Linked DNA regions of Homo sapiens: region 2 is linked to region 1. The links come from fine-mapping of genetic effects on gene expression. A gene starts in region 1. The other region holds a variant in brackets. All regions are shown on one strand. Distances are between the middles of the regions. Region 1 holds the start of LTBR (lymphotoxin beta receptor). Region 2 has its middle 12 kb from the start of CD27.

What was found. PIP is the estimated chance that this variant, and not a neighbour inherited with it, causes the effect. A credible set is the group of variants that fine-mapping cannot tell apart.
Region 2: its variant is the best candidate, but not a certain one, in a credible set for the expression of LTBR in whole blood (TOPMed, PIP 0.53).

Annotation. Positions count from the first base shown.
Region 1 is chr12:6,381,752-6,385,751 of GRCh38, forward strand. It overlaps LTBR (lymphotoxin beta receptor), which reads left to right and starts at 2,411. Exons shown (of 10, transcript NM_002342.3): 1 at 2,411-2,703; 2 at 2,837-2,933; 3 at 3,271-3,396; 4 at 3,476-3,628. The coding sequence starts at 2,608. RefSeq lists an enhancer at 1,464-2,329.
Region 2 is chr12:6,431,020-6,435,532 of GRCh38, forward strand. No RefSeq gene overlaps it. Among named protein-coding and RNA genes, the nearest start is that of CD27, 12 kb to the right of the region's middle. RefSeq lists an enhancer at 3,389-3,889. The variant A/G (reference allele first, on the strand shown) is at 2,139.

The sequences.
Region 1 (4,000 bases):
ATCACAACATCAGGAGTTCAAGACCAGCCTGGTCAACATGGCGAAACCCCATCTCTACTAAAAATACAAAAATCAGCCAGGCATGGTGGCAGGCGCCCGTAATCCCAGCTACTCGGGAGGTTGAGGCAGAGAATTGTTTGAACCTGGGAGGCAGAGGTTGTAGTGAGCCGAGATTGCACCACTGCACTCCAGCCTGGGCGACAAAGCGAGACTCTGTATGGAAAGGAAAAGAGAAAAGAAGAGAAGAGAAGAGGTGTTCTGGACCAGTTGGGGGATATGCAAGAATACACAAAAGTGAAGACTCTCTGAGCTGTATCTGTAAGATCAGTGTACCTTACGGTTTCATTGTATTATATGTTACACCTCTATTAAAAGAAAGGGTCTCAGCAGCATAAGACAGGGTGGGGAAAAAAAGAAAAATAGAATAGAGAAAGAGTCCCTGTCTTTTAGGGTAAAATCCTGAAATATTTTCAAATGAAATGATATGATGTCTGGGATTTACTTCAAAATAATAATGAGGGATTTGAAGAGTGTGTGCGTTGGTGGGGGAGGGGGTATACAGAATAAATGAAACTGACAGTGAGTTGAAGCTGGGTAAGGAGTATATGGGAGACTCCCAATATTACTTTTTCTCTTTTGGTATATTATCTTGCATGTGGAATTTCCACAGTAAAAAGTAAAAAGAAGAGAGAGAAAAAAGGACCTAGGGTCGCTACACACACATTCCTTTACGCGTTTAAGAGCTCAGCAGGGACTCTCATCCCAGCCCCCAGCGCTAGGGCCCTGGAAGGCTCAGCAGCCCCGCGCAGTGCATGCTGTTCTGATACTTCTGCCCTTTCCAGCCATCTTTGGCCCATCTGTACGGTGAGCTGCCTGCACCAGGTGAGGGGAGAGAGCCTCACAGAGTGAAATGCCTACAGCCTAGGCAGGTCCTTTCCCCCTTTTGTGACCTCTCCTCCCCATGCACACTTCCCATCACCTGCACCTGTCCAGACATCAGACCTGAAGTTAGACAGACCAGTGTAAGGACGAGTGCTGAACAGAGTCCTTCAGGGAGGGGGATAGTGCCCAAGTGACCTATCTCAAGAGAGGTTAGCCCCTCATCCCAAGGGAGACATCCCTGAGCCACAAGGAGTTGGCAGGACTGCTGGAATGAGTTGGGACCTAGACATCAGGAGACCCAGATTGTAGCTGGCTCTGCGGTGGACTGGCTCTGTGATGTGGCCATCACTCATTTATTCCATAAATACCTATTGGGCACATGGTATGTGCCAGACTCTGCTAAGCATGGGGAACACAGACTTGAAGATTCAGCCTGGGCCATGGTGGCACTCACAGCCTGGTGGGAAGCAAACAAGACAGCCAGGTACAGAGGGCAGTCTTCACGGGGACTGTGCAACCTAGGGCAGAGGTTGCCTTCCAGAGCCTCAGTGAAGCCTCAAGGACAGGTGGGAGTTAGGAAGACGGAAACTTGGGGACCAGAGAACCACGTGTAAAAGGGGGCAGCTGCAAGTAACTCCACGGGTGGGTGGGGTGTTGGGTTGAGGGAGATGGGAGGATGAAACAGGGCAGGAACGAGACCAGGCCACCCTGGAATCCCGGTTCCCTTATGTATCACCCTTAGCCTCCCTCTCCATGCTTAAGGTGAGGGGGCTGGACTGCGTGGGCTCTCAGCTTTCTCCAGTTCTAAGGGGTTTGAAGGTTCATGGGCAAAGAAGCCAGAGCAGAGGGACTGAGTGCCCAGGTCCAGCCTGCTGGCCCCAGGACTCCCCTCCGCATATCCTCCCCCTCTCTTTGGGAGGGAGGTTCCCTGAGGACAGGGAGCAGGGCAAGCTGCACAGCTCTCAAGGGTCTCCTAGGTGACCTGTGCCCACTCCTGTGCGGATTGGGCTGGGTTGGTAGCGTGGGGGGCTGGCTGATTTGCTAGTCCCTTGTAATTTGTCTGAAAAACTCCCACAGTAGGGCAGGACAACGGGGGAGGAACCCGGGCATCTGCCAGCCGGTTCTCCTCGGTCTCAGAGCTGCTTCTGCGGCCTTGCAGTCCCCGCGCCCTGCCCTCTCCATGACTGCCCGTCCTGGGCCCCTCGCTTTCCAGATCCCGCACCCAGCTGTCCCTTGCGCTCTCTGGAACTCCCTCTGCTCTCCCTGCGAGGCTTGTCCAAGGGCTGACCCCGGGCCCGCCGCCCTTCCCTCGGCTGGGCCAGGGCTGTCCGCAGTCCGCTCTCCCGATCGGGCTTCCGAAGAAGGGAGGAGGCCGGTTCCGGCCCCGCGGCCCTCACGTGCTTTCCCGGCCGCCCCTCCCGCCCCGCATCGAGGCAGACAAGCCTGTTCCTCTTCCCTGGGCTGCGATTGCGACAGGCCGGCCTGGCTCCCAGCGCTCCCTGTCCCCGCCCCGCGGCCAGCTCGCTCCACTCCCACTTCCTGAGCTCCGCCATGGGAGCCCTGGAGGCCCGGCCTGGCCGCTCCCGGCCCTGGGGTGCACATCGGCCCTGAGTCCCGTCCCAGGCTCTGGGCTCGGGCAGCCGCCGCCACCGCTGCCCAGGACGTCGGGCCTCCTGCCTTCCTCCCAGGCCCCCACGTTGCTGGCCGCCTGGCCGAGTGGCCGCCATGCTCCTGCCTTGGGCCACCTCTGCCCCCGGCCTGGCCTGGGGGCCTCTGGTGCTGGGCCTCTTCGGGCTCCTGGCAGCATCGCAGCCCCAGGCGGTGAGGAAGGGGCCTGGTAGGAGTGGGCGAGGGTGGGCAAGAGGGATCTGGGCAGCCGTCGCTCCATTCCCTCTGCCCTCCCAAGCTGACCCCTGACTAATTCTTCTCTCCTCTTCTCCATCTCCCTTTGAAGGTGCCTCCATATGCGTCGGAGAACCAGACCTGCAGGGACCAGGAAAAGGAATACTATGAGCCCCAGCACCGCATCTGCTGCTCCCGCTGCCCGCCAGGTGAGAGGCAATGGCAGGACGAACCTGGGCCTCGGAAGTGGGTCACGGGGGCTCCAGCCCCCTCGCGGCCTCAGAGGGAAGGTGGGCACTGTCCCCCAGGAAAACTGGCTGCTGGAGACGAGCGTGGGAAACCCTGGACATCACGTGGAGGAGATGGGACTGGCCCTCCCCACTGGGCCTCCTCTTTCCTTACCTCACTGAGAGGGAGCCGGAGGGCCACTGGCAGGATGATGGGGGGCCAGAGAGACCGAGGGAAAGGCCAGGGTCACACTACAGGCAGCGGAGGTGAGGGTGGAGCCTCGTCTCCTGAGGCTCTACTGCTCCACTCACGTTCTAGGCACCTATGTCTCAGCTAAATGTAGCCGCATCCGGGACACAGTTTGTGCCACATGTGCCGAGAATTCCTACAACGAGCACTGGAACTACCTGACCATCTGCCAGCTGTGCCGCCCCTGTGACCCAGGTGAGTGGGGATGTGCCTGCGGGGGGGCTGGATCCCCTGGAGCTTGGCCCCTCCCTGAGCCCTCCCGTCTCCCCGCCAGTGATGGGCCTCGAGGAGATTGCCCCCTGCACAAGCAAACGGAAGACCCAGTGCCGCTGCCAGCCGGGAATGTTCTGTGCTGCCTGGGCCCTCGAGTGTACACACTGCGAGCTACTTTCTGACTGCCCGCCTGGCACTGAAGCCGAGCTCAAAGGTCAGAGGTCCCTGAGGGGCTGGATGTGAAAAGGAGGCTGGGTGCCAGGGATCTCAAGTGGGAGCAGGGAATATGGTACTGTGTCCACGGCGACCCCCCAGATCCTTGGCTTAAAATTCCTCTTCTCATTCCATGCAGAGGCTCACAGAAGGGTTCTGGAGGGACATGGAACTGGGACAGGTGCAGGGGACACAGGAGGTGGTTCTTCTCAGTACTGGGAAGCTTGGGCAAAATGGTAGGCAGTAGGCCGGGTGTGGTGGCCCACGCCTGTAATCCCAGCACTTTGGGAGGCCGAGGTGGGCGGATCACGAGGTCAGGAGATCGAGACCATCCTGGCTAACACAGTGAAACCCCGTCTCTACTAAAAATACA
Region 2 (4,513 bases), 50 kb after region 1:
TTATGGAAAGAACAAAACAAACACAAAAATACAACTGTGCTGGGGCCGATGGACAATTGTGCCTGGCAGGCTGAGTCATGAGGCCAGTTAACAAGCCTTTCTCTATCTGCAAAAAGAAGTACTTTAGAAAAGCAATATAAGAAGAACATGGACCAGGGGCAGTGGTTCATGCCTGTAATCTCAGCACTTTGAGAGGCTGGGGTGGAAGGATTTCTTGAGGCCAGGAATTTGAGACCAGCCTGAGAAACATAAAGAGACCCAGTCTCTACATAAAATTAAAAATCAGTCAGGCGTGGTAGTGTGCACCTCTGGTCCTAGATACTCTGGAGGCTGAGGTAGAAAGATCTCTTGAGCCCAGGAATTCGAGGCTACAGTGAGCCATGATTGTGCCACTGCACTCCAGCCTGGGTGAGTAAGCAAGGCTGTCTCTAAAACACAAAAAGAAGAAGAACATGGAACTGCCAGACTTGGGCTATTTCATTTCCCAGAGATAATTTTTTACCGAGTGGAGAGAAAATGGGTGGTTTGTTCCTTAGGCTCTATTTCTTGCTCTGTGCTAGAATTATCGCAGCTTTGTGTAAGATTTCCTTCAGCAAATATAGGTAGCCTGCGATGCCCCAAATAAGAAAGGAAAAGACAAAGTCAGATGTTACTGCTGTCGGTCATCTCAGGTATGAAAAAGAGAGGCAGGCCCCTTGCCAGGGAGAAGGAACAACCAGATGCTGTCCATGAGGCACTCTCCTACCTCTCCTAAGACAGGGGTCGCCCTTGCTCTGAAAAATTCAAGCAGAGAATCCTCAGGAGGAGTGGGGCCAAGAAATCAGAGTAAGAAATATTTGATTATTGCTTAATAACATTTTAAGTAGAAAATAAAATAATTTTTTAAAACAGGCTGGCCGGGCGTGGTGGCTCACGCCTGTAATCCCAGCACTTTGGGAGGCTGAGGCAGGTGGATCACGAGGTCAGGAGATCGAGACCATCCTGGCCAACATAGCAAAACCCCATCTCTACTAAAAATACAAAAATTAGCTGGGCATGGTGGCATGCACCTGTAATTCCAGCTACTCGGGAGGTTGATGCAGGAGAATCGCTTGAACCTGGGAGGCGGAGGTTGCGGTGAGGCAAGATCATGCTATTGCACTCCAACCTGGTGACAGAGCGAGACTCTGTCTCAAAACAAAAACAAAAACAAACAAACAAACAAACAGGCCGGGCATAGTGGCTTACGCCTATAATCCCAGCACTTCAGGAGGCCGAGATGGGCGGATCACCTGAGGTCAGGAGTTCAAGACCAGCCTGACCAACATGGTGAAACCCTATGTCTACTAAAATATAAAAATTAGCCAGATGTGGTGGGGGGCGCCTATAATCTCAGCTACTCGGGAGGCTGAGATGGGAGAATTGCTTGAACCCAGGAGGTGAAGGTTGCAGTGAGCCGAGATCATGCCATTGCACTCCAGCCTGGACAACAAGAGCGAGACTCCACCTCAAAAAATAAGAAGGAAAGAAAATAATTTTTAAAAACATAAACATATGCCTACCACAGTGGCTCATGCCTGTAATCTCAGCACTGTGGGAGGCTGAGACAGCTGGATCAATTGAGGTCAGGAGTTCAAGACCAGCCTGGCCAACATGGTGAAACCCCATCTCTACTAAAAATACAAAAATTAGCCGGGTGTGCACACCTGTGGTCCCAGCTGCTTGGGTGGCTGAGGCAGGAGAATCACTTGAACCCAGGAGGTGGAGACTGCAGTGAGCTGAGAATGTGCCACTGCACTCCAGCCTTGGCAACAGAGACTCTGTCAAAAAACAAAAACAAAAACAAAAAACAAAAAACACCCACAACAACACACATAACTTTTTTGTCTAGGAAAGTTCTGGAAGAATACTCAATAATCTGAAAACAGTGCCTACACTAAGGAGGTAGGGAGAGGACCAGGGATTGGGGGAGGAGATTGATCAAAGGGAACCTGAGTCTTCTCTATAATTTTCCATTTTTTTTCATTTTCACCTCCAATTTTTAAAATATAATTTGTACTTTTTATTGTGAACTAAGATATGTAAAATAGTACATAAAAATAACACATTGAAAACCCACGTTCAGATCAGAAGATTAGTAGAACCTTCGAAGCGCCCTG[A/G]TCACACCTTCCCTCCTCACCGGGGGAAGCAGCTCTGGCTTGTGTCTATCACTTCCTCACTTTCCTTTCTAGTTCTACCATCTGTGTGCACCCTGAACAGCAAACTGCTTCATTTTGCCTGTTTTTGAACTTTATAAATGGAATCGTATGTACTTTTCTATGCCTTGCTTCTGTGTGTTTGTGCACTATCACTTAACATGTTTTTCTATCTATTTATTTATTTATATTGTGGTAAAATATACATAAAATTTACCATTTAAACTATTTTTAAATGTATAATTCAGGGGGCATGAAGTACATTCACGATGTACAATATTATATTTTTGACATTCATGCAAATTAATCTACATGGCTACATGCAGGTGGTTCATATTCATTCCTCTAAAGCATTCCATTGGGTGAATATACAACAATTTATTATCCAACTACCGTTCTCTCCTTCCTTCCTCCCTCCTTCCCTCCCTTCTTTTCCTCCTTTCTTTCTTTCTCTTTCTTTCTTTCTTCCTTTCTTTCTTTCTTTCTCTTTCTTTTTCCTTCCTTCCTTCCTTCCTTCCTCCCTTCCTCCCTTCTCCTTTCTTTTCTTCCTTTCTTTTGCAGTGGCGCGATCTCGGCTCATTGCAACCTCCGCCTCTCAGGTTCAAGCTATTCTTATGCCTCAGCCTCCAGAGTAGCTGGGACTACAGGCATGTGCCACCACGCCCGGCTAATTTTTGTATTTTTAGTAGAGATGGGGGTTTGCCGTGTAGCCCAAGCTGGTCTCAAACTCCTGGGCTCAAGCCATCTGCCCGCCTCCATCTCTCAAAGTGCTGGGATTACAGGTGTGAGACACCACAGCAGCTTGCTTGCTTGCTTGCTTTTTCTTTTGGAATTACAAACAGTAGTGCTTGAATATTTTTGCATATGTCTCCTGGGGCACAGGTACAAGCACTCTTAGTGCATTTACCTACTGATGAAAATGATGGATTTTGCTGGTTTAATTTTTTATAAGGAGGTGATATGAATATTGCTTTTATAATTAAATTTCAATTTTAAAAAAGAAGAGAAAGCAGTTGGGATGGGCTCATAGAGTGAAAGGGCAGGGAACGGTCTATGAGACCAGAAGAAGACAGGCAGGAAGGGCGGCTGAGCCATGCCTGCAGGCTGAGCATGGAAGGTACTGTGAGTACACAGTCAGATCGGCACAGGAAATGAGCACCTTTGAGGCGTCCACTCTGTAGGGGCTCGTCAACAGTAGACTGGGGTTCAGGAGACCTGGGTTCTCTCCCAGCTCTGCCACACAGGGAAAGTCATTTCACCTCTGCACCCCACGGTTCTGATAGCTGTAGAGTGAGAGGGTAAAGCCGAAGGTTGGAATCATTTTCCAGCCCTGCTGGCTTGAAATCCTAAGCTGGCTGGAGCAGTAAGATGGGGGCTCCCCATAGGCCCACAGGACCTTCTACCTAGAAGCCAGGAGGAGGGGACAGGAGCCCAGATAGGAAAGAACTCTGTCTCTCCAAGACCCAAAAAATGACTAAAAGTAATGACTGGGCCTCACCCCAGTAAGTCAGTAGTGGTGGTGCGGTGGTTAACAGCCAGCTCTCGGAGTGGGAAGCCCTTGATCTATGGCGTTTGCTGATGTATGTGGTTGTAAGTATTCCTACTATGGCCAGCTGGCCAATTTCAAGCTACCAACGAGTAACCTCACAAAATTCCTGAAAATGTAAGGATCGGGCTTTGGCTAGGCAGTACTAGCAGGCTCCAGCACGGCCCTAGGAAGGAAGCTGCCCTAAGAGCTCAGGCTCAGACACCGCACCACGGACTAGCAGGGGAAACAAAGGTCTTAGGTCCCTCTCAGGGCTCACAGTCATGAGGCTCAGAAACAGCTGGGGAAAGTGGGGCGTGCCTCCCTCCCCGCCACAGGGAGGATCACCAGACTGGCTCCATGAGCCATTTCCCTCATCTGGTGAGCAAGGGAAGTCACTCAGAAGAGCAAGAATGGCCCAGCCACCCAGCACGGTGGCTCACACCTGTAATCCCAGCATTTTAGGAGGCAAAGGTGGGCAGATCACTTGAGCTCAAGAGTTCGAGACCAGCCTGGGGAACATGGTGAAACTCCATCTCTACAAAAAATACAAAAATTAGCTGGGCTTGCAGGGCACGGTGGCTCACGCTTGTAATCCCAGCACTTTGGGAGGCCAAGGCTGGCGGATCACCTGACATCGGGAGTTTGAGACCAGCCTGAACAACATGGAGAAACCCTGTCTCTACTAAAAATACAAAATTAGCTGGGCGTGGTGGCGCATGCCTGTAATCCTAGCTACTCTGGAGGCTGAGGCGGGAGAATCGCTTGAACCCAGGAGGGAGAGGTTGCAGTGAGCAGAGATCGCGCCATTGCA